Linked DNA regions of Homo sapiens. The protein of the gene in region 1 purifies or fractionates together with the protein of each later gene. This does not show direct contact. Each region holds a gene or a part of one and is shown in the gene's direction. Other genes may lie near its edges. The genes, in order: ZDHHC9, TPX2, RSPRY1 and ATP13A3.

Region 1 (3,782 bases):
GAATATGGGCGGAGGCATCAAGTCTCCTGATGTTGAGTTCTTCAATACTCCTTAACCACACCTCACTGTTCTAGAAGTCCTCATTTGCTTCTTTACACTCTGGTCCGTCGTGGGACTGACTGGATTTCATACTTTCCTCGTGGCTCTCAACCAGACAACCAATGAAGACGTGAGTCAACTTTCTCTTCTCCTCACCACATATTCTTCTTCCCAAAGCCTATCCTCTTGCTACCTGCTAGAGAACTACCGAGTCTCCAGGGCCTGGGAGGTTGAGGCAGGCAGAAACGTGGTATGCGAGGTTGTTAAGTCAGATGTGTGGAAGAGAAAGGAGAGGGCTTTGTTGAATGCTTGTGGAGCATTAGGAAGAAGAGGTTGAAAAGTTGGGTGGGTATACAGCCTTTAACTGTTCACAGGTCCTTAAAGGCTAGCTGGTGCCTCTGTTTGGCATGGAGAGGGACAGTTGCACTGGATGAATCCTTGCTATATAAAAAGTTACCAATTAGGCTGGGTGTGGTGGCTCACGCCTGTAATCCCAGCACTTTGGGAGGCTGAGGCGGGCGGATCACCTGAAGTCAAGAGTTCAAGACCAGCCTGGCCAACATGGCAAAACCCTGTCTCTACTAAAAATACAAAAATATAGCCGGATGTGTTAGTGTGCACCTGTAGTCCCAGCTACTCGGGAGGCTGAGGCAGGAGAATCACTTGAACCCGGGAGGTGGAGGTTGCAGCGAGCAAAGATCACGCCACTGCACTCCAGCCTGGACAACAGAATGAGACTCTGTCTGGAAAAAAAAAAAAAAAGTTAGCAATTAATCTACATTCACTGTAGAAAATCAGAAAATACAGATGAGCAAAAAGAAAAAAGTAAGTTCCTCTTACTTTACTTCTTAGACATCACCTTTGTTAGTAGTATGATTTATATATTCTAGACTTGTCTAGACTTTTTTCCATGTTTATTTATGTGTTTATATTATGTACTTTTAAATAAAAATAGTATATATCATTCAGTTATCTGCTTTTTTCACTCTATTGTGAGTATTTTTCATGGCTGTGTATGTATTTCTTTTTTGTTGTGATAAAATATACATGATATAAAGTGTGCTATATTAAATGTCTTTCAACCCTGGCGATCAATGGGGTGACAGTTGTTGCAGCCAGATCGCCCTCATATCCTAAATGTACAGTTCAGTGGCATCACATTGTTGTGCAACCATTGCCACCATCCATTTCCAGAACTTTTTTATTATCCCATGCTGCATGTGTTTCTTCAACATTATTATTATTATTTTTCTTTTTTGTGTCTGTTTTTAATTTTATTATTATTATTTGTTCATTTTAACATTATTTTTAATGTCAGCCTTGGTTTTTATCTTGCAGATCAAAGGATCATGGACAGGGAAGAATCGCGTCCAGAATCCCTACAGCCATGGCAATATTGTGAAGAACTGCTGTGAAGTGCTGTGTGGCCCCTTGCCCCCCAGGTGCTCAGGGCACTCAAAAGTCCTGGGACTGTTGGGATGAGCAGCTCAACCTGATCCTGTTACCTTGTCTGATGTGTTTTTCTGAGTGTGGCCTCTTGGTGTCAAATAGGTCTTTCCAGGGCTTGCCACTTGGTACCATGTCTACATGGACCATAGACCATGGGCTGGTTGTTTTGGAGGGATGATCTTTCATTCTTAATTTCATTTGTTTGTTCCCTGGTTAATGTGACATTTCCTGGTTTGTGGAAGAAAAAGTGAATGGGAGATAAGAGGCATGTGCTGTGTTCAGGCTAGATTGCCAAAGGACAGGTTTATATTTTCCAGTCTATGCAGCAAAATTCCGTAGGCCAGGTGGGTGGAGGGGTGAATGCCCAGTTCTTTGTTAACTCTCTTATCTCCTTCAGTGTGCTGGATCGAAGGGGTATTTTGCCACTGGAGGAAAGTGGAAGTCGACCTCCCAGTACTCAAGAGACCAGTAGCAGCCTCTTGCCACAGAGCCCAGTAAGTGTTCCTGACTTAAGGCTGGGTCGATATAGAGAGGGCGGAGGCTAATTTACAGCTTGGAAATATAATTAGGCAATATTGTATTCTAATCACCCCAGCTTCCCTGCCTCTACACCTGCCCTGATGTTGCCTTCAGATCTTTGTGTCCTTGATGTAGATTAAGATTTAGTCATTTCTTTGGTGTATATTGAGTGACTCTGTGCCAGCCACTGTACTAGCTGCCAGGGTTATACCAATGAATGAGGCAAACGATGTCCCTGCTCTCAAGGAGCTCATTGTCTAGTGGGGGCAAGAAACAAGTAAACAGGCCATTGCTCAACATTGTGAAAAGTGCCTTGATGAGGAAAGCATAAAATGCTATAGGGGCAAAGACAGAGGTCAGGGGATTGTATTAGAGTTAGTGATGTGGTTACTGTGGTAGAAGGGGGCTTCCTAACTGGAATATGCAAAAGTTGTGGAAACTCTCCCAGCTGTCCTATTTAAGATATATAAAGTATATCTTTAAAGTATATAAAGTACTTTCCTAAAAAAAAATATTACTTGAGCTTTTTTTTTTGAGATGGAGTTTTGCTCTGTCACCCAGGCTGGAGTGCAGTGGTGTGATCTCGGCTCATTGCAACTCCACCTCCCAGGTTCAAGCAATTCTCTGCCTCAGCCTCCGAGTAGCTGGGATTACAGGCGCCCGCCACCATGCCTGGCTAATTTTTGTATTTTCACTAGAGACAGGGTTTCACCATCCTGGCCAGGATGGTCTGCATCTCCTGACCTCGTGATCCTCCCGCCTCAGCCTCCCAAAGTGTTGGGATTACAGGCGTGAGCCACCGTGCCCAGCTGAGCTTTCTTTTTTTAATAAGAACTTTATTGAGATATGATTCACATACCATAGGTCCCAATTTTTTTTTTTTTTTTTTTTGAGACGGAGTCTCGCTCTGTCACCCAGGCTGGAGTGCGGTGGTGCAATCTCAGCTCACTGCAACCTCCGCCTCCCGGGTTCTCCTGCCTCAGCCTCCTGAGTAGCTGGGATTACAGGCATGTGCCACCACGCCCAGCTAATTTTGTATTTTTTAGTAGAGACGGGGTTTCTCCATGTTGGTCAGGCTGGTCTCGAACTTCTGACCTCAGATGATCTGCCCACCTCAGCCTCCCAAAGTAGAGGATTACAGGCGTGAGCCACTGCGCCCAACTGATCCCTATTTAAAATGTATGATTCACTGGTCTAGAATATTCACAGAGTTGTACAATCATTATAACAATCAATTTTAGAGCATTTTCGTTACCCTTCCACCCTAAGAAACCCTGTAGCCATTAGCAGTCACTCTCCCTTTCCCCTGAACTTCCCCAGCCACACCCCTAGGCAACCACTAATCTACTTCCTTTTAGTACAGATTTCTCTCTTCTGGGTATTTCATGTAAATGAAATCATACAATATGTGGTCTTTTGTGACTGGCTTCTTTTACTTAGCATGTTTTCGAGGTTTGTCCATGTTGTACTATGTAGCAGTACTTCGTTCCTTTATATGGCCAAATGATATTCCATTATATGGATATACCACATTTCATTTATCCATTCATCAGTTGATGGACATTTGGATTGTTTCCACCATTTGATTATTATGAGTGATGCTGCTATGAACATTTGTGTACCAATTTTTGCATGGCCATATATTTTCATTTCTCTTGGCTATATACCTGGGAGTAAAATAGCTAGGTCACATGGTAGCTCTATGTTTAACCTTTAAGGTACTGCTGAACTGTTTTCCAAAGTGGCTGCACCATTTTATACCCCCACTAGCAGTG
Region 2 (4,293 bases), on another chromosome or scaffold:
TGCAAGCTACTTTATGTCTTTGCCTTTTTCCCAATTACACCAGACGATTTCCAGGGGCCCTTTGAACTCTTAAAATTCTAAAACTTTTTGTATTTAGTTGGCTCTACCTTTCTCCCAATGGGGCTTGTTTAGAGCACAGTCTTCCTGTTAGTGTGCATGTCTGTGCCACTTGCTCATTCCAGGGGGCGTAGGTTTATGCAAGTCCTGCTTGTGCACCAATATTTTTTCTGTTTCTGTACTTAGAGGGCCTTTCTGGTTCTCTAGTTCAGGAACCTTTTCAGCTGGCTACTGAGAAGAGAGCCAAAGAGCGGCAGGAGCTGGAGAAGAGAATGGCTGAGGTAGAAGCCCAGAAAGCCCAGCAGTTGGAGGAGGCCAGACTACAGGAGGAAGAGCAGAAAAAAGAGGAGCTGGCCAGGCTACGGAGAGAACTGGTAACTGGGAGCATGAGCACTGACGAACACAAACATGCCTCTGTTTTATTTTACCTGTACCTTACCTTGTACCAGACAGGATCTAAGGTAGCCCGCAAGGCTGTACCAAAGACAATGAGTGAAAGGGGGAATTGCACAAACTGAGGGTGGTGATGAAGTTGAGTTGTGAATGAAGCTAACGATGTGTACATTGTGATCTAAGTAGGAGCTGTAATTTTGGCCCTTTTTAGGAACCAACCTGTCAGTTACAAAACTCGCAGTGTTCATGAGACATAAGACAGTTGTTCAAAAAATACATTTATCCCTTTGATAGTGAATTTTTAGACAGAATTTCTTCCGGAAGTTTTCATAAGGAGGACAACATGTGGTATAACCATGATGCCTTTCCTAGGACTGTTTTTTATTTATTTGTTTATTTTATTTATGTAACTTATTATTTCCTCTGGGGTTAAGAAGCACCACTGAGTTTTGTAATTAGACAAGAATACATAGCGAAGGACATGGGAATTAAATGGCAACTGTATTTTTGTTTTAATACTGAGCCCAAACTCCTTGGAGTTACAGTGTTCGTCGCTCCAGGTAATCCTCTACTAACATAATTATTTAGATGTTGGTTATCCAAAAAGAAACCTGAACTCCACATTAAGGACCAATCTGCTAGGAGGGCAGCAAGTTGTGTTAACTGTGTTAATGAAGAAGCAGACAGTTTTAGATGGAACTTCGTATGATAAATAAAAAAAGAAAGGGTCATGGGGAGATGTTGGTAAAAGGTTACTTAGTTACAGTTAGATGGGAGGAGTAAATTTCAAGAGATCTATCATATAACAAGGTGACTGTAGTTAATGATATATTGTATTCTTGAAAACTGTAAAGAAAGTGGATGTTATGTGCTCACACTACAATAAGTGGATGTTATGTGCTCACACTACAATGTTAATTAGCATCTTGCTAATTAACAAATGCATTATCTCACATAGTAACCATTCCATAATGTATGTCTACTTTAAAACATCAGCGGTACACAATAAAAATATACAGTGTTATCTGTCAATTAAAAAGAAAGAAGGCCAGGAATGGTGGCTCACACCTGTAATCCCAGCACTATGGGAGGCCCAGGTGGGTGGATCACTTGAGGTCAGGAGTTGGAGACCAGCCTGGCCAAAATGGCGAAACTCTGTCTCTACTAAAAATACAAAAATTAGCCGGGCATGGTGGCACGCACCTGTAATCCCAGCTACTCGGGAGGCTGAGGCAGGAGAATTGCTTGAACCTGGGAGGCCCAGGTTGCAGTGAGCCGATTGTGCCACTGCAGTCCAGCCTGGGGGTGACAGAGCGAGACTGTCTCAAAAAAAAAAAAAAAAAAAAAAAAGAAGTGTAAGTTGTTGAGGTTTTGTCTAAAAGTGCTATACTACAGCTGGATGTGGCAGCTCACACCTGTAATCCTCACACTTTGGGAGGCCAAGGTGGGAGGATTGCGTGAGCCCAGGAGTTCAAGAAAAGCGTGGGCAACATAGCAAAGTCCCATCTCTATTTTAAATAAATAAATAAAATGCTAGACTAGCAGTTGAAACAGCTATTGGCAGCTATTGGCATAGGTGATTATGCCCATAGGAAGGTTCCACGGACACACTATTTAGGAGACCAGCCTCTTGGTAAAATCTAGACTACCATTTGCTGAGTGAATGAGAAAATAGTATAATCCCCACTCTATATACACTCATACAATCAGCCTTTTTTCCCGGCCTCAACTTTGATTTTTCTTTAGCATTTGGTACCTGCCTCTTGTGTTTGTCCCCATTATAGAACTGCTTCTTGCAGCAATTCTCAACATAACTGATGGCAACATTGTAAAGCACAATTCAGTCAATGCTGGTTAACTCTCTACTAATCTGGCTTGATTTAGGATTGATTTTAGACTACCCTAAAGGATGGATGGGACCATGCCTTCTTTAGCCACCCTTCCTGGTATGGTTGTTGTGTTTTGTTTTTGCTTTTTCCCCAGGATTCAGGCTTTTGGTGAATATTTATAGTCAGTAAACTTAAGACTGTACTCTGGGAAATTCTTAGCTTGTAACTTCTCTGCTATACTTGAGTACAGCCCTATTATACCCTAGTAAATCACACAGGACATAGGTTTGGCATTCTTTAGTGAAAGCTGAGGGACTTGAGGAGACTGTGGCCTAAAGGAAAGCTGGGGGACCCAATAGAGACCTGAATAGAAACCCTTTTGGGCTCCAAAGCACATACACTTTTCCATCATACCGTGTTGCCCCCCAGGCCCCACTCCCCACACCTGAAACTAGTGACTGGGACCTGTAAAACTCTACAAACATTTTCTCAAAAAGAAAAAAATAAAAGCAATTATAAGCGTAGTTCTCTGACATCCCTCTCACTGGTAACTTTTCCTTACTTTGCAGGTGCATAAGGCAAATCCAATACGCAAGTACCAGGGTCTGGAGATAAAGTCAAGTGACCAGCCTCTGACTGTGCCTGTATCTCCCAAATTCTCCACTCGATTCCACTGCTAAACTCAGCTGTGAGCTGCGGATACCGCCCGGCAATGGGACCTGCTCTTAACCTCAAACCTAGGACCGTCTTGCTTTGTCATTGGGCATGGAGAGAACCCATTTCTCCAGACTTTTACCTACCCGTGCCTGAGAAAGCATACTTGACAACTGTGGACTCCAGTTTTGTTGAGAATTGTTTTCTTACATTACTAAGGCTAATAATGAGATGTAACTCATGAATGTCTCGATTAGACTCCATGTAGTTACTTCCTTTAAACCATCAGCCGGCCTTTTATATGGGTCTTCACTCTGACTAGAATTTAGTCTCTGTGTCAGCACAGTGTAATCTCTATTGCTATTGCCCCTTACGACTCTCACCCTCTCCCCACTTTTTTTAAAAATTTTAACCAGAAAATAAAGATAGTTAAATCCTAAGATAGAGATTAAGTCATGGTTTAAATGAGGAACAATCAGTAAATCAGATTCTGTCCTCTTCTCTGCATACCGTGAATTTATAGTTAAGGATCCCTTTGCTGTGAGGGTAGAAAACCTCACCAACTGCACCAGTGAGGAAGAAGACTGCGTGGATTCATGGGGAGCCTCACAGCAGCCACGCAGCAGGCTCTGGGTGGGGCTGCCGTTAAGGCACGTTCTTTCCTTACTGGTGCTGATAACAACAGGGAACCGTGCAGTGTGCATTTTAAGACCTGGCCTGGAATAAATACGTTTTGTCTTTCCCTCCCTGATTGTGTTATTTGATGTTTTTAAATCTGTTAAGCCCCTTTGGAGGTCACATCTTATTGGGAAATGGGTAGTTTGAGAGGTGGGTCCAGGAACTTTTTTTTTTTGAGATGGAGTCTCGCTCTGTCGCCCAGGCTGGAGTGCAGTGGTGCGATCTCTTCTCACTGTAAGCTCTGCCTCCTGGGTTCACGCCATTCTCCTGCCTCAGCCTCCCGAGTAGCTGGGATTACAGGCGCCCGCCATCATTCCCGGCTAATTATTTTTTTTGTATTTTAAGTAGAGACAGGGTTTCACCGTGTTAGCCAGGATGGTCTCGATCTCCTGACCTTGTGATCCACCCGCCTCGGCCTCCCAAAGTGCTGGGATTACAGGCGTGAGCCACCATGCCCGGCCCAGGACAGTACTTTGTAATTTTTTTCTGTCTTATGTCAGAATATCTCCATATTCTGTTAACTCTCTCTCAGTAACCACTTAATCATGTATGTTATGCCTTCACACAGACTGTACCTTCTTCCCTAAAGACTCAGCTCAAGTTAAATTTTTTTTTTGAGATGGAGTCTCGCTCTGTCACCTAGGCTGGAGAGCAGTGGCACAATCTCTGCTCACTGCAGCCT
Region 3 (3,782 bases), on another chromosome or scaffold:
GAGTAATATTTCTCTTCTAATTCCACTGAATTATAAATTTTGTTTATATTATTCCTGGTCAGTGCTCAAGGTATGAGGAATTAATTGTAACTAGCCAGATGTTGTGTAGAGACTACACACTAGCATAGTCTATTCCTTATGTGGCCTGTTCTCCAGCTGTCAGCCTGTTTTGTTTGTTTGTTTGTTTTTTTACTTTTTGCTACCAGCCCATGTAAGTCTCCTATTTCTAAATCTTTACTTCCTTCCAGAATCTAACCAGATTTTACCAGCTTCTTGAAGAGCTGGTTCTTTCATTAGGTTTTTAATGATAAACATACTTTGTGGGATGAGAATGGCCATCCATGAATTCCTGGAGGGCAGGAACTATTCCTTACTCATCTTTATTCTCCTAGTCCAGCGTGGTACCTGGCACAAGGTCCTTAGTCAGTATTTTCAGGCAAAGATAAATTGGTGCATCTTATTCTGAACTTTGTAATAGACATGTGCAACAAACTGATCATTGTGAAAATACAACTTTTGTGATATCAGTTTTCCTTTCCCAAAACAAAGCCTTGCTTACATAACAGAAACACTTTGCAACAACTTGTATGAATTCTGTCAGTTCTTGAGTGAGCTTCCAATGGGAAACTCTATCCTTTTATTCTCCTTGATATCAAATGGTGCTATCATATTTGTATCATAACTTTTTTTTAACAACAAACGTCTGTAATTATTTTATTTAAAACTTGTTAAATTATCCTATGGGTTTAAAGAAAGGAGTTAATTCATTTTTTTAAAGATTTTTCTCTTTTTAACACCTACCTCTTACACAGAAAGACAACTCTTTTTTTATGATAAAAGGAGCCCTTGAAAAAAAATGCACACATCCTTCTAATGTATTTCTATATAGACAGGAAAAACTATACATGTGGTTTTAAAAAAATCAATGATAACTCCTCTGGTCTATAAGAATATGGTTTGGCAATCAACTTTGTAACAGAATGATAAAAAGAAATTATTGATTGATTGCGAATTCTGTTATCCAAAGCTATCTCTTTGTATTGGAAACCTATAAAAATAACCAAAGATAATTCTTCATTAGAATCCTAATATCTATAAAATCAGACTAGGAAAATTTGAGTAATTAAGTGGTCAAGAATCTTTTATTCATTTTCCTTTTTCTCATTTTCTTTTAGAACTGCCATTGGATGTCCAGAATCCCCTGTAGTTGATAATGTTGGGAATAAGCTCTGCAACTTTCTTTGGCATTCAGTTGTTAAAAACAAATAGGATGCAAATTCCTCAACTCCAGGTTATGAAAACAGTACTTGGAAAACTGAAAACTACCTAAATGATCGTCTTTGGTTGGGCCGTGTTCTTAGCGAGCAGAAGCCTTGGCCAGGGTCTGTTGTTGACTCTCGAAGAGCACATAGCCCACTTCCTAGGGACTGGAGGTGCCGCTACTACCATGGGTAATTCCTGTATCTGCCGAGATGACAGTGGAACAGATGACAGTGTTGACACCCAACAGCAACAGGCCGAGAACAGTGCAGTACCCACTGCTGACACAAGGAGCCAACCACGGGACCCTGTTCGGCCACCAAGGAGGGGCCGAGGACCTCATGAGCCAAGGAGAAAGAAACAAAATGTGGATGGGCTAGTGTTGGACACACTGGCAGTAATACGGACTCTTGTAGATAAGTAAGTATCTGACTCACGGTCACCTCCAGTGGAATGAAAAGTGTTCTGCCCGGAACCATGACTTTAGGACTCCTTCAGTTCCTTTAGGACATACTCGCCAAGCCTTGTGCTCACAGGGCAAAGGAGAATATTTTAATGCTCCGCTGATGGCAGAGTAAATGATAAGATTTGATGTTTTTGCTTGCTGTCATCTACTTTGTCTGGAAATGTCTAAATGTTTCTGTAGCAGAAAACACGATAAAGCTATGATCTTTATTAGAGAATAGAGTAAATATGGAGTGAGTTTATGTTGCTAGCTACAATAGGAAATGGTTTCATGAAGGCTCACTGTTAATGGTACATGCCTGTCTATTCCACTGACCTCAGATTCAAGGTAAGTTGTTTTACCAAGAACATGGCTACAGGCAACTTCTCTTGGCAACATAAGGACTAAGGTCAAGGAGAGTTTTCATTATCCTTTATTTGATCCTTTATCCCTTATTTGACTATCTTTAATCCATTTAGGAAGCTTGTCAGTTGATACTGCAAGGCACACCTGTACCTGTTTTGTCTTTTCCTCTGCTTTGTCTACCTCTAAATACAAAATCATAGATTGAATAACAGTGAAATTAAAGGGCATCCAAGTAGAAAAAAACATTTAACTTAAGGTTGTATATTTCAGTAGTTAAGAGCACAAAGCTTAGAACCATGATGGGCCTAGCTCAAGTTCTGGCCCAGTGCCTTACTAACTGCATGACATTGGGTAAGTTACTTCTTGAAGCCTCAGATTCCTCATCTGTAAATGGGGGGATAATATTGTTCCCACAAGGATTATCATGAGATAATGTACATAAGGCATTCAGTGTGGAGCTTTGTACTTAACAGTTGCTCAGTAGATGGTAGTATTTTTTAAAAAGTTACTTATGTGTTCTTTTTGCTTCAGGCCCTGCTAGTAAATTTAAGTATATAAACATTTGATAATCGCATTTATAGAAACCCAGTTTCGTTTAGTTCCTCAAAAATTAAGCATAAAACAGAGTGTACCTGTGAATACAAACGAATTTTTAGAGCTGTATTAAACTTTTCCATAAAATACTGGAGCATTTGTTAGTCTTCGAGAAGAATAATTTTTTGGCCAGACACAATGGCTCATACCTGTAATTCCAACACTTTTGAGAGGCTGAGGTAGAAAGATAGCTGGAGGCCAGGAGTTCAAGACCAGCCTAGGCAACATAGGGAGATCCCATCTCTGCAAAAAAAATTTAAAAATTATCCAGGTACAGTGGCACTTGCCTGTGATCCCAGCTACTCAGGATTCTAAGACCGGAGTACTGCTAGAGTCCAGGAGTTTCCAGCTGCAGTGAGCTATGATCACACCACTGCACTCCAGCCTGGGCAATAGAGCAAGACCCTGTCTCAAAAATTAATTAATCAAAAAAAATTTTTTAAATCCCTTGTACCAAATTGTAATAAAAGTTATCCTTCCCAAATAAGGAAGTAAACCACAAACAATGTTAATTTAAGCTCATTGGAAAAATGGGTGCAGAATAGACTTTGAGAGAGAGAGTTTTTTTGTTTTGTTTTGTTTTTAAAGAGACAGGGTCTCACTTTGTCACCCAGGCTGGCGTACAGTGGCGTGATCATGACTCACTGCAGCCTCAGCCTCCTGGACTCAAACCATCCTCCCACCTCAGCCTCCTAAGTAGCTTGGACTACAGGCGTGTGCTACTGCACCTGGCTAATTTTTAAAAAAGTTTTTGTAGAGCCAGGTCTTGCCATGTTGCCCAGGCTGGTCTCAAATACCTGGACTCAAGCGATTGTCGAGCTTCAGCCTCCTTAAGTGCTGGGATTGCAGATGTGAGCCCCCACGCTTGGCCCCTTGCAATATTTTAAAAGAGAGTGACATAGTTATACAAACCTCTTTGTTTTTAACTTTTCTCAACATCGAAATCTGTGTTACTGTATATAAATCTACAACTGCTTCTGACTATTACAGAGTATTCCCTTGTATGCCTGAAAGTATTATATTTTGTTACATTTTCATCTGGTGATGGTCACTTAGGTTACTGCCAAATTTTTGTTCTTACAAACAGCACTGCAGTGAACAGCGCAAATATGCATTG
Region 4 (3,782 bases), on another chromosome or scaffold:
TATATGATGTGACTCCACAGTGTGAATAATGGAGAAATAACTTAGGTATTTATGAACATCTGCTATCTCCGTAAGGTTATGCCACAAAAAGATCTAGTATAATTAAAAGGCTAGGTAATAAAGTTGAGAATATTAGGAGATTATTGGTACTGTCTGTCATTCTGAGGGGATACTCAACTACTTTGAGTGTTTTTGTTTTGTTTTTTTAAAGAATAAATTTATTCCTTACTGCTAGCAAGATCTGCATTGTTTTAAAAGAGCGATGTAAATTATTAATGGATTCCATGAAATTTAAAGTATCTAAACTTAAGTATTACTCTGGGGATAGCACAGTAAGAAAACATGAGTATGTAAAAACATGATGGTGGCTAAAAACTTAACAGTCTTATGTCCTGGGAGAGGGCATGGTGTATTGGATAAAAATGTGGGCTTCAGAGCCATAGTGATTTTGAATTACAGCTCTGTCACATACCAGTCTTGTAGTCTGGGTTAAGTAAGTCACTGAACCTCTGAGAGCTTTTTTATTTGCCAGATAGAGGTGATAAAGGGTACCTTAGAGAATTGTAAGGATAAGAGTCTGAGTGAAGGGTAACTTATTATTTGTTAACTTAGTAACATTGAAGATATTCAAAACAAGTCAGATGTGTGTGTGGGGTGTGATTGATGATTGCTCTTTGTTTTTTTGTTAACTGGAACAGCAGGCAATAATGTTATATTCAGGCTTTTTATGTCCAAAACAATCTATGATTTTGTATCTTTAGTAGCAACATCCTCAAAAGCTCAAGATGTTAACCTCATGTATCTCCGATATACATTTTATGTATATTTTAGTTTTTCTCTTTGTGTCTCTGGTGTGTTTGCAGTCTGTTTTCTCTCCCATCTTGTTACTGTTACCCAATGTCTCTGTCTCTGACCACCTTATAAAATTTAAAACTATCTGTAATTGTATTTATTTTATAGGACTTTATATGCATTATTTTCATTTAAAAATTCTGATTAGTCAAATATTTCTACTTTTTTTTTAAAGAAGACTTTGAATTATATTTCAATTTTGTGACCTTTAGATTTCTTTAAACATGGAATCCTAGTCACTGGTTCCTTATAGACCGAAGATTTTTCTTTTTTTTAAATTTTATTTTATTTTACTTTATTTTTTTAGACCAAAGATTTTTCATTCATCTCTAGATCATGCCTTAGCTTCTTAAGTCACCAGTTTTCTAAGCTCATTTACAATTTTCATCTGTAGTTTCCTTGTTTCTCCTTTTTTTAATGTTTATGTTTCTAATTTTCCTAAGCACAAAAGATAGAAACCTATTTAATGCTAATTATAATAAGTAGATTAGTATACTAAGTAAAATGTAAAGTACAATAGGCAAATGACATAATTTTGTCTGTAGCACTTACTTGAAAGACTAGACTAACCTAGCACACGCTTAATTGAAATATTTAATGGGTCTTTTTGATATGAAAATGTACTTTTCATAATTGTCAGCACTGCCTTAGAGTTAGTTGAAGAATAATTTTAAGCTAACCCATGGTTTTCTGTTCAGTGTTTGATGAAGAGAATAGAATAAGCTCATTAATTTAGTCAGATTCAGAAGCATCTTAAAGAGTACCCCCCGCCCCAATCCTTTCTAATCTCTGGTGCGGCCCATAGTGACTCACTATTCTTCATGTTCCCTTAATAGTTGTGGCAATGATAAGTTATTGTAGTGTATAAGAGTTGTGATTTTATAGGTAGCAAGGAAGGGGGCTTGGTTAGGGCCTCTTGGTTATGCCTTTAGGACTGTGTTGGTACTTCTAACTATTTAATAGTGTTTTAGTTCCTGTACATGCCAAACACAGGGCTGGATGCTGGGGAGACATCGATGAATGAGTTCTTCTCTCTTACACATACACAGTCCAGCAGGTAAACACTGTGCTGTTGCATTGCACAAGTCCAGAGGATACCATTCACGTTGTATTCTTCAGGAATATGGCTCCTTGGCCTGGCCTAGGATCTCTTTCAGGTGACAAAAGTTCAGAATCTCCATCACCTACAAGATAATCTGTATTGTTTATCATGTCTAACAAGACCCTTCCTTATAATCTGATCCTGTCCTATCCTTCTAAACCTCCATTTGTAATTATTCCTCAAAGGCTATCACCCCGTGCACCAGTCAGTTTAAATAACTTGTTTTCCTGGCATTTTTTAGGATCTCTCACTATAGTACCTCTGCATGTGGCAGTTCCCCTGCTTGGGTTTCATCTCTCTATTTTCTCCCTAACATTTTTCCTCTTACTGCTTGTTTGCTTGATCAAGTTTACATCCTTCTGGTCTTAGATCAAGAGATAGTTCTTTTTTGAAGTCTTTTCTGTTCTTGGTTCTCTCTTTCTCCCTGGTGCCATTGGTCACCATTTTGTTTGATATTTGTTTGCTTACTTATTTGTCTAGCCTACTAGATGTGGTTCCTTAAGGTTAGAAATTTAATCTTGTAACCTCCAGCATTTAGACCACTAGTTGGCACATGGTAGGCAATACCATTCTAACAAATGAGTTTTTATGAAATCAAATTGGCAATAAACCAGAATGATTATTGCTAGAATGCTAATTTAATATTTACAGATTTATCTGAAAAATTAGGATACTTGACAACATCTTGGTTTTCTGATTTAATTTACCTTTTTCTAGTCAAGCAGTAGTTTGGGGTTAGATTTCAGGGAACTGCTTGGCTAGAGTGAAGACACTGTTTTAAGTTCATTGGTGAACATGTTGGTGAGAACTTTCTGTCTGCTGAAGAATTAACCATAAGTGGTCTCAAACTAAAACAAAGACACAGAGGTATTCAACCCAAGAAGAATGGATGATCTGTAGGATGGTAGTGTCTGCCCCAGCTCTGTCTCTACCTGTAGCACTCACTGCAGCTAATCTGTAGGAGTGGATGAAGTGAGGTGGAAACACTTCTGGGGGGCCCAGTCAGGAAGAGACTCCTAGATGCTTCTGGGCCAGTCTTTCTGTGCGATAGAGTGTCCACTCCCCATATCCTCTCCATACTTCTTTTAAAATTTTGTTTCTTAGTGATTCATCTTAGGTTAACAGCTATGAGAAGCTGTCACTAATTTATGTGTTAACTTCTGAACAGAAGGATCCTGATTAAGAGGAAGAGGAAGGGTTGATCTGAAGAACATAGTGCTGTGGTGGAGGTTGTGTAGAGTTCCATGAGGTCACTAAGGGACCTGGGAACACAGGATATTGGGAGAGCTGGGAAAGGGGAATAGGGATGAGATGCGGGAGCATGCCAAAGACAAAATTACTTTGTTGTCAAATTTTGCCCACAAAAAGAAGAGGGATTCCACCCCTCCTTCACCCAGTCTTGCCCTGTCTCCTTTATTCAGCTGCACTGCTGGATGCTTGCCTGGTTCCCAGCCTTTAAGGTTTTTAGTCTATAAGTTCAACGTTGTTGGAAAAGTGCTCTGATACCTGCAGAGGTGGGAGAAAGGTGGGGGCAGTCCTCTGCTAGGAGATGGAAGGGACAATCAAAGCTTAGTAGCTTGAGCTGGTCCTGGAAGAGCAAGTAGGAGCTCTTTAGCCAGACTAAGAGAAGGGCATTCTTGGCAGAAGGAATATTCTATATAAAGAAGTGGAGTCAGGGAACAGTAGGGCTCTTTGAAGAACTACAGATTGTGTTCTAAATGAATGACATGTAAGGTTTGTAAGGGGCGAGTGATAACCACTGATGAATGGCAGATGGTGTTGACAACTAGGCGGGGCCAGAGTCTGTAGGATCTTACATGTCTTGCAA

The links.
Region 2: the proteins of ZDHHC9 (region 1) and TPX2 purify together in Homo sapiens (co-immunoprecipitation; one large-scale study listed by IntAct). This does not show direct contact.
Region 3: the proteins of ZDHHC9 (region 1) and RSPRY1 purify together in Homo sapiens (co-immunoprecipitation; one large-scale study listed by IntAct). This does not show direct contact.
Region 4: the proteins of ZDHHC9 (region 1) and ATP13A3 purify together in Homo sapiens (co-immunoprecipitation; one large-scale study listed by IntAct). This does not show direct contact.

What each region holds. Positions count from the first base shown.
Region 1 is NC_000023.11:129,809,105-129,812,886, reverse strand, and holds part of ZDHHC9 (palmitoyltransferase ZDHHC9), read left to right. Parts: exon of another isoform or gene 1-66; coding exon 67-169; intron 170-1,377; coding exon 1,378-1,481; intron 1,482-1,885; coding exon 1,886-1,982; intron 1,983-3,782. UniProt on the Homo sapiens protein: Palmitoyltransferase that catalyzes the addition of palmitate onto various protein substrates, such as ADRB2, GSDMD, HRAS, NRAS and CGAS. The ZDHHC9-GOLGA7 complex is a palmitoyltransferase specific for HRAS and NRAS.
Region 2 is NC_000020.11:31,798,122-31,802,414, forward strand, and holds the end of TPX2 (targeting protein for Xklp2), read left to right. Parts: intron 1-243; coding exon 244-431; intron 432-2,848; coding exon 2,849-2,959; 3' UTR 2,960-3,679; downstream 3,680-4,293. UniProt on the Homo sapiens protein: Spindle assembly factor required for normal assembly of mitotic spindles. Required for normal assembly of microtubules during apoptosis. Required for chromatin and/or kinetochore dependent microtubule nucleation.
Region 3 is NC_000016.10:57,203,329-57,207,110, forward strand, and holds part of RSPRY1 (RING finger and SPRY domain-containing protein 1 isoform 1 precursor), read left to right. Parts: intron 1-1,175; 5' UTR 1,176-1,330; coding exon 1,331-1,680; coding exon of another isoform or gene 1,681-1,684; exon of another isoform or gene 1,685-2,053; intron 2,054-3,782.
Region 4 is NC_000003.12:194,476,940-194,480,721, reverse strand, and holds part of ATP13A3 (polyamine-transporting ATPase 13A3), read left to right. Parts: intron 1-3,782. UniProt on the Homo sapiens protein: ATP-driven pump involved in endocytosis-dependent polyamine transport. Uses ATP as an energy source to transfer polyamine precursor putrescine from the endosomal compartment to the cytosol.